Linked DNA regions of Homo sapiens: region 2 is reported to be linked to region 1. Evidence: microRNA targets listed by miRTarBase, many of them from high-throughput screens and not tested one by one. Region 1 holds a microRNA gene; the other region holds the end of a gene's coding sequence. Distances are from middle to middle.

Region 1 (3,649 bases):
GCTGCCTTGAGCAGTCGCAGCAAAGCCAGACCCATGTGGGCCAGCAGCGTGGAACCCACGGCACCTGTCCTGGGGACTCTGCCCCAGCCTGGGGCTGGCCTCTGGGCTTTCCCATAGCCTCCAATCTGATTGTCCCTAGGCCCCTGAAAAGGCCAGCATCCACCGGCTGATGGAGGCCTTCATCCTCAGGCTGCAGACCCAGTTCCCCTCCACTGTCAGCACTGTGTACAGGTGTGGGTGTGTGTGGGTGTGTGCGGGGGGTGCGCGGGTGTGTGCTGTGCGCGGGTGTGTGCGGGTGGTGAGCTCACCACTCGTGCTCAGGCCAGGGCTTAGGGTGGAGCCCCAGCCCGTGTGATTCACCTGCTCCTCCCACAATCCGGCCACAGGACAAGTGAGAAGCTGGTGAAGGGCCCCCGGGATGGCCCTGCTGCTGGCGACTCCGGCCCCCGCTGCCTCCTCTGCATGTGTGCCCTGGACGTCGACGCCGCTGGTCTGTGTTTCATGCTCTTGGGGTGATGCGGGGAGGGAGCCAGGGAGTGGGTGTGGGGGCTCAGCAGCCCCAGGCTCCGTCACCCCCTCTCTGCTTGCAGACAGTGCCACGGCTTTTGGGGCTCAGACCTCCTCGCGTCTCTCCCAGATGCAGTCACCCATCCCCCTGACTGAGACCCGGACACCCCCGGGGCCCTGCTGTTCTCCAGGGGTGGGCTGGGCCCAGCGCTGTGGCCAGGGGGCCTGCAGGAGGTGAGTCCCTGTCCCTGCCACCCATGGCCAGCTGCATGGGGCGGGAGGGGGACCTGTCCTTACCCCACACTGCACGGCATTGAGGTGCCAAGGTGGGCACACAGCCAGCTCTGCTCCCGCAGGGAGGACCCCCAAGCCTGCATTGAGGAGCAGCTGTGCTACAGCTGCCGCGTGAACATGAAGGACTTGGTGAGTACGTGCCCACCTGTCCTGGGCCGGGCTTGGGGACGCGGGAAGGCCGTCACCTCGTGGGTGGCTTGAGGGGGTGCTGGCAGGTTTCTTGGCCCCTCGACACCGGCCTCTGTTGCAGCCCTCACTGGACCCCCTGCCGCCGTACATCCTGGCTGAGGCCCAGCTCCGCACACAGAGGTACTGGGGCCCACACTGCCGTGGCGCGTGGGTAAGGGGCCTCGGGGCTGGTGCCCACTGCAGCTTTCTCTCTAGGGCCTGGGGCTTGCAGGAGATCCGGGACTGTCTGATTGAGGACAGTGACGACGAGGCGGGCCAGAGCTGAGCGTGAGGACGTGCTTGCCGGGACAGCAGGCAGTGGCCACCTGGTACACCACACTGGAGCCGGAAGGCAAGGACGGGGGACTGGCCTCTGATTGTCCATTTGTATAAATAAAACATTTTTTAATTAAAAAAAAAACTCTACAGTACACGTGGGGGACGGCAGCGCCACGCAGGCCGTGGGGACGCAGTGTCCTTCTCTGACAGCAGCATCAGGGCTCAGGCAGGCCGGGAGGATGCATCACAGCTGGCGGCCTTGGACGGGGCAGTGGCTCCCCCGGCCTGAGGAGTGCCGCCCCTTGTGGCCACGCTGCCCAGCAGGCCGGCTCCTTCCCTCTCGGGCGCCAGCAGCAGCTCCTACTCCTTCTCACGAGTCCACTTGATCATGGTCTCCGGTGAGCGGTAGAGGAAGATGAGCTTGGCGTACAACTCCTCCTCCAGCTCCAGCTCCCGAGTCTCCCGCACCAGGAAGATGTCCTGGCAGAGCTTGAGGATGCGGTCCACGCACGGCAGCTCCTCGAACATAATGGAGTGCGAGATCTCGCTGAAGAATCCGCGCACGAACTTGCCGATGACCAGCACGATGGACACGTACAGCCCCATGATGCTGCGGGGGAAGCTGGTGAGTCCTGGGGCCGCCCGGAGCCCCCCGAGCTGCGGGGTGCCCCCCCAGCCACTCACTCACCCGTAGCCAGCCAGGAAGCCGAGGCTCGGTGGGCTGACCTTGTCACTGAAAATGACCATGGGCAGCAGGTTGCAGTCGGTCCGGCACTCCTGCAGCTCGATGACCCACCATTCGAGGAAGCCGGTGGCCCCCGCACCCTGCTCCCTCCGCAGCTGGATACGCACGCCGAGGTAGTCGGCCTCCTCATCTGGGATGGAGGGAGAAGATCGTTGAGGCCGCAGGTCACCCCTCTCTAGCCTCCCCCAACCCCCACGCCCATACTCACTGGGCTGCAGCTGCTTCACAGGGTTGGCTTCGGGCCCGTTGGGGGCACGGATGTACTTGGGGAAGAGATTAGGGATGACCCTGCAGGGAGGTGCTGGCAGGTCAGGCCTGGCCCAGCCAACCTGGCACAGCCCTCCTGCCCACCACCCGGGCCCTTCACTCACACAGACTGGTCCGAGGTGCCCTCGAGCAGGCTGGCCAGCTGCCGCCGTGCAGTGCTGTTGGGGGCCAGGGCCAGCATGTGCTTCTCGTTGGCATACTCCACAGTGCCTCCCTTCGCCAGGTCCCTGGGGGTGGGAACACAGCGTGACCCACTGTAGTGGGTCCACCCACCCAGGCACTGCCCCAAGTCCAGGACGAACCTCTGGAAGTTCCAGGTGAAGCGCAGGGTGATGTCGGCCGTGCCGTTGTAGAGCTCCCGCTTCATCTGGGCACGGCTGGGGGGACTGATGCGCCACAGCGCCCCGGAGCTGCCCTCAATCTGCGCCGTGACGATGTCCTCAGGGCTGTACTGGCTGATGAACTGCATGGCCAGCTGGGTACAAGTGACACCCTCAGTGACTGCAGCCGCCTCCCCACACCAGCTTTCACAGGGCAGAGGCCACTTACCGGCTGGGGGTCAAACTGCCGGGACAGCTCCTCATAGGCCTGGGCCGTGAAGGGGATGATGGACGGCTGCTGGGCGCTCATGGTGAACAGCGGCTGGGGCAGGCACGGGGACACGGGGCCACGAAGATGAGCGTGGAGGAGCGGCTGGGGGTGGTGCACCACCTTGGCCAGAACCCCCAGGGGATGGGAATGGACAGGCGGACCCACACATGCTCACCTCATAGCCGCCCAGCTTCAGGGTGACGGTGACATCGATGGGCTGGTTGACAACCCCAACCACGGAGCGCACCAGCGACATGAAGAGCAGTGGGAACCAGATGATGGCGATGAGGAAGAGGATGATGAGGCCACCCATGCCGTACTTGACGATCTTCTTCTTCTTCTGCCCTTTGGGCTGCGGGTATTTCTGGAGGGGAACGACACAGGTCATACGCTCAGCTCTGCCCTTCCTGCGGGTCACACAACCGCATTCTCCAGCTCACCCAGCAGCCCAGAAAAGCCCCAGCCTGACCTCAGTATGGCACAGCGGTAGTAATGGTGGGCAGACACAGGCCAGTGGAGTAGAACTAAGAGTCCAGTTGGAACCCTCATGTTCAGGGGTCGTTGATCTTAGACAAGGGAGCTGTGACCGTTCAGTGGGAACGGACAACCTTTTTCAACACGGTGCAGGCACCGCCCCAGGCAGGAGAATGAAACGCAACTCCTGCCTCATACCATGTGCCAAAATTTACCTCAAAGTGGATCAAAGAGCGAAACTTCAGAGCTAAAACTATAGAACTTTTAGAAGAAAACGGGCAAATCTTCATGAACCTGGATTTGGCGAAGGAAACAAAGTAAACC
Region 2 (5,006 bases), 84 Mb from region 1:
CCACGTGGGGCTGCCTGTGCTGGGTGGGAGGTTTTCCAGCAGCCCTGGCCCCTGCCCACTAGAGGCCATTTACAACCCCCTCCCCAGACACAACAAAAATGTCTCCAGACCTTGCCACTGGGTGGGAACCCCTGGCTTAGAGGATACAGCAGAGTGCAGAGCTTGATGGCCCTCACTCTGTAACTTAGCAGCCCGGTGATTCTGGGTAAGTTTCTTAACACTTGTGTGCCTCGGTTTCCCCATCTGCAGGATGGAGATGGTAACAGCACTGACCCACTGGGTTATTGTGATGGTCAAGTGCGTTCCTCTTTGTTTGTTTTATTGATTGTTTAGTTTTTGAAACAGGGTCTCATGCCGTCACCCGGGCTGGAATGTAGTGGCGCGATCACAGCTCACTGCAGCCTTGACCTCCTAGACTCAAGTGATCCTCCGACCTCAGCCTCCTGAGTAGCTAGGACTACAGGCACACGCCACCATGCCCAGCTAGTTTTGTTTATTTTCTGTAGAGACGAGATCTCACTGCGTTGCCCAAGCTGGTCTTGAACTCCTGGGCTCAAGCAATCCTCCCACTTCAGCCTTCCAAAGTGCTGGGATTATAGGCGTGAGCCACAGTGCCCAGCCCCTGCTAAATGTTTTGTAGGGGAACCTTAGGAGCCCTGTGAGGCCTTCATTTTCCTATTAGAAGGATTTCCCTTGCCCTCTTGCTGTGAGTTCCTAGAGATCGTGCTTTCTCTGTCTCAGGACCTGGGATCCAGTTGGAGGACGGCGGTGATGGCAGGGAGGATGCCCCGTTGAGAATGGAGTGGTACCGAGTGCTCTCGGCACGATGCCAGGGGCCTGGCCACCCGCTCCCAGGTCAGAGGCCAGCCCCAGTCAGGGGCTTGGTCAGGCCTGATCAGCCAAGAGGCGGCCCCCCACCAGGAAGACGGGCTTCCCATGGGGCTGACAAGCCGTACACCTGCCCCGAATGTGGCAAAGGCTTCAGCAAGACGTCCCACTTGACCAAGCACCAGCGCACACACACGGGCGAGCGGCCTTACAAGTGCCTAGTCTGTGGGAAGGGCTTTAGCGACCGCTCCAACTTCAGCACGCACCAGAGGGTGCACACAGGCGAGAAGCCCTACCCGTGCCCCGAGTGTGGGAAGCGCTTCAGCCAGAGCTCCAGCCTGGTCATCCACCGCAGGACACACAGCGGGGAGCGGCCCTATGCCTGCACCCAGTGCGGGAAGCGCTTCAACAACAGCTCGCACTTCAGCGCCCACCGCCGGACGCACACAGGTGAGAAGCCCTACACCTGCCCGGCCTGTGGCCGGGGCTTCCGCCGGGGCACCGACCTGCACAAGCACCAGCGGACCCACATGGGGGCAGGCTCCTTGCCGACGCTCCAGCCGGTGGCTCCTGGAGGCCCCGGTGCCAAAGCCTGATCACCAGGCCTGAAACTCCCTTTCCAGGACTCTCATCCCTGGGCACAGAATTCAGGAAACTGCTAGACAGCCTGGTCCGAAAGCATTGCCAGCTGCCCGTTTCCTCCCATGGCCCAGTATGAGGCCAGCAGGGGACATTTGGGATGCCCAGGCCGCAGAGGAAGCTGGGCACTGGGTGCAGAACAAGGGCAAGGACAGGCTCTGAGTGTCCAGTGGCAGCCAGAACAGGTGACACAGAGCAGGGGCTTCAGCCACAGAGACACACTCAGGAGGCCAGAAGCCGACACTCAAGGTGTTCGTGGGGCTGGCTCCTGAAGGGCCTGGGAGGGTCCATCAGCTGCCTCCAGCATCCAGTGGCTGCTGGCATACAGCCTCATCCCCACGTCCCAACCCCTCTCCTGTGTGTCTGTGACCCTGTGCGCTGTCTCTGTGTGTACCCCCCACCTGCTCCCCCCCCCTTTTTTTTTTGAGACGGGGCCTTGCTGTGTCCCCCAGGCGGGAATACAGTGCCATGATCATAGCTCACTGCAGCCTCGAATCCCTGGGCTCAAGTGTTCCTCCTGCCTCATCCTCCTGAGTAGCTGGGGTTACAGGTGTGTGCCGCCATGCCCAGTCTCTTTTTTGGTAGGGCCACCACTCACTGGGTTTAGGGTCCCCCAATACACTGTGACCTCATCTTAACTAATTATATCATCAAAACCCGTGTTTCCAAATAAGGTCACATTCTGAGGTCTGGGTGCACATGAATTTGAGGGACCCCTCGTCTGCTGCAGGGAGCCCTGCTGTACCCCAGCCTTCCCAGGACGTGGTCTCCAGCTTCTTCATCCTGCCAGAGTTTCCAAATGGAGCCCGGGGCTCTGCAGCATTCCAGTCCCCTTTGCAGATCCATAGCTGCTCTGCAGGGCGGAAGACACCTGGGGCGGGAAAGCACCCCTGAGTTCCATCTTCCTGACATGTTGCCTGGGATGTGACGGGCCTGACATCTCCCCAGGGCCGGGGCCCAGGGCTGCGTTTGCTCCTGGCCCCTTAGTGTCTGGAATGTGGCCTTCCACGGTTGCCCCACTTTGTCTTTCTAAGGTAAGAAGCCTTCACCTTCCAGCTTTTGTCTGGCCTGTGCTGCGTGGGAGCCACTGGTCTGTGCACATCCACGGTGGGTGAGTGGCCAAGACAAGCAGTGTGATAGAGTCCTTGGTGGGTTTAGTCATCTCGGAAGTCGTAGGGCAGCTATGGAAACCACTGGGTTCTGGAACGTTCCAGCCAGGCAGTGGTTGTTCCTCATAGGTAGGTGGCCTTGGCCTTCATCCCAGCCTGGGATGCTCCATTGCATTTGTCACCTAGTCACTGTATATACGTGCACATTTGACCTTTTGGCACAGCCCAGGTTCCAGGTGCGTGACCTGCCCTTTTTCTCATTCCCTTAACTGACATTATTTAGTGTCAGAGGCCGAGCACAGTGGCTCCCACCTATAATCCTAGCACTTTGGGAGGCCAACGCGGGTGGATTGCTTGAGCCCAGGAGTTCAAGAGCAGCCTGGGCAATATAGAAAGACCTCTTCCCTACCAAAAAAAAAAAAAAAAAAAAAAAGCCAGGTGCAGTGGCTCACGCTTGTAATCCCAGCACTTTGGGAGGCCGAGGCAGGTGGATCACAAGGTCAGGAGATCGAGACCATCCTGGCCAACATGGTGAAACCCCATCTCTACTAAAAACACAAAAATTAGCTAGGCATGGTGGCGTGGCACGTGCCTGTAGTCCCAGCTACTCGGGAAGCTGAGGCAAGAGAATCACTTGAACCAGGGAGGCGGAGGTTGCAGTGAGCCGAGGTCGCACCGTTGTACTCCAGCCTGGTGATAGAACGAGACTCCACACAAAAAAAAAAAAAATTAGCCAGGCATGATGGGGTGTGCCTGTAGTCCCAGCTACTTGAGAGGCTGAGGCTGGAGGATCACTTGAGCCCAGGAAGTTGAGGCTGCAGTGAGCTGTGATTGTGCCACTGCACTCATCCTGGAAGACAGAGTGAGATCCTGTCTCAGATAAAATAAACAATTTTTTTTTTAAGTCATTGCTTCTGGCCCCTGTGTGCTCTGTCCTGTGTCTGCAGAATGGGGCTGCCTGGTTGAGGGACGGCTTTTACCTTCTAGACTAGCTCTGGGATCTCTCATGGGGCATGAGGTACCCAGCTAGATGTGGCCAGGCCACACTCCAGGAGCTAGCAAAGCACCCAGCGTTGCTGACACCCATCTCCCCAGCGCAGCCTGAGCCCCCAGGCCCCTCTCTCATATCCAGGCCTGTGCTGGAGGTGGCGGCCTCTGGGGGAGTGTGGTTGGGGTCTGCCCACTTCCCTCCCCCTGCCGAGGCTGTGGCCTCCCACTGGCTGCTGCTTGGCCCCATCTCATGGTCGCTGCCTGCTGCTTGGCCCCATCTCATGGGCGTCATCCTCAGCACTCACGTGATGGGAGAGTTTTGTAGGAGCTGTGAGTCCCAGGTGCCTGCGTGTGCTGTGATGTTATCTCATGCAGTCCAGTGAGGGGGGACTCCCATTAGTCTCCTTTTTTTGTTTTGTTTTGAGACACAGTCTCACTTCATTACCCAGGCTGGAGTGCAAGGCACGATCTTGGCTCACCACAACCTCCACCTCCCAGGTTCAAGTGATTCTCCTGCCTCAGCCTCCTGAGTAGCTGGGATTACAGGTGCGCACCACTACGCCTGGCTAATTTTTGTATTTTTAGTAGAGATGGGGTTTCTCCATGTTGGTCAGGCTGGTCTTGAACTCCCGACCTTGTGATCCACCCACCTCGGCCTCCCAAAGTGCTGGGATTACAGGCGTGAGCCACCGCGCCCGGCCATGATTCTCCTTCTGTGGGTGGAGGAACTGGGCACTGGGAGCGTGAAAACCTTGCCCAGGTGGCAGAGCCAGCTTTGGACGCAGGTCTGACTTCCTACCTCACTCCCCTTGCCTTGACAGACACAGTAATTCAGAGTTGAACTTGGAACAGAGTTTATTTTCCATCACTGTAAAACATTCTCAGTGAGGTTACTGGCATTAAAAAGGTGGGAGAAATGGAAGAAAATGGGGTTGAAGAAAAAAAAAGCCTTTGCTCTTGACAGCTAGGCAGCCACAGCGGAGGCCGCCAGGCTGCGAGGGCAGCGTATGGGGGCAGAGCCCGGTTCTGGCGGCACAGGCCCCGGAGTGGAGGGGGCAGGGGAGGGTCTCTGTAGGTGGGAGAGGGCCTGGGGGCTGGGAGGCAGCCTGGCCTTGTGCCCTACAGGAGGGACCTCCTGGGACTTTATGGAAGCCTGTCTTGCCTTTGACTTGCAATGAAAATGCCCCTCATCATTGGGAGTGGGGTCGGGTGGGGGTCCCCAGTGGCCAGATCACGTGGGGTCCAGAGAGCAGACATCTGTAGCCCTGATCTTGGCGGCCAGTGACCACGGCCAAGCAGGGCCTGTCTTTTGCCTGGTACAAGGCTTGATGAGAAGAGACCCCTGCCCATCCTCAGTGGCCTGGCAGCCAGGGGTGAACCCCAGGGGAAGCTGGGACACTGTCCCAAAGGCCCGGCGCCCTACTGTGCTGCCTGAGCCCG

Evidence for each region. Region 1 holds the annotated microRNA hsa-miR-4722-5p (GGCAGGAGGGCUGUGCCAGGUUG, at 2,319-2,341, opposite strand). A microRNA usually pairs through its seed, bases 2 to 8, with sites in the 3' UTR of a target mRNA and lowers its output. Matches are read on the target gene's strand: a 7mer-m8 pairs with bases 2 to 8, a 7mer-A1 pairs with bases 2 to 7 and ends in A, and an 8mer does both.
Region 2: the mRNA of ZNF500 is a reported target of hsa-miR-4722-5p. Seed matches in the 3' UTR shown: 7mer-m8 at 1,982-1,988 and 7mer-m8 at 4,077-4,083.

What each region holds. Positions count from the first base shown.
Region 1 is chr16:88,713,997-88,717,645 of GRCh38, forward strand. MIR4722 (microRNA 4722) reads right to left here and starts at 2,341; the gene lies at 2,282-2,341. It overlaps CTU2 (cytosolic thiouridylase subunit 2), which reads left to right. Exons shown (of 15, transcript NM_001012759.3): 10 at 140-231; 11 at 387-490; 12 at 591-741; 13 at 864-930; 14 at 1,052-1,110; 15 at 1,186-1,400. The coding sequence ends at 1,255. PIEZO1 (piezo type mechanosensitive ion channel component 1 (Er blood group)) reads right to left here. Exons shown (of 51, transcript NM_001142864.4): 45 at 3,027-3,215; 46 at 2,810-2,902; 47 at 2,563-2,735; 48 at 2,365-2,487; 49 at 2,202-2,281; 50 at 1,937-2,123; 51 at 1,342-1,858. The coding sequence ends at 1,609.
Region 2 is chr16:4,748,794-4,753,799 of GRCh38, reverse strand. ZNF500 (zinc finger protein 500) reads left to right here. Exons shown (of 6, transcript NM_021646.4): 6 at 742-5,006. The coding sequence ends at 1,424. DNAAF8 (dynein axonemal assembly factor 8) reads right to left here. Exons shown (of 10, transcript NM_139170.3): 10 at 4,404-5,006. Among named protein-coding and RNA genes, the nearest start is that of ZNF500, 16 kb to the left of the region's middle.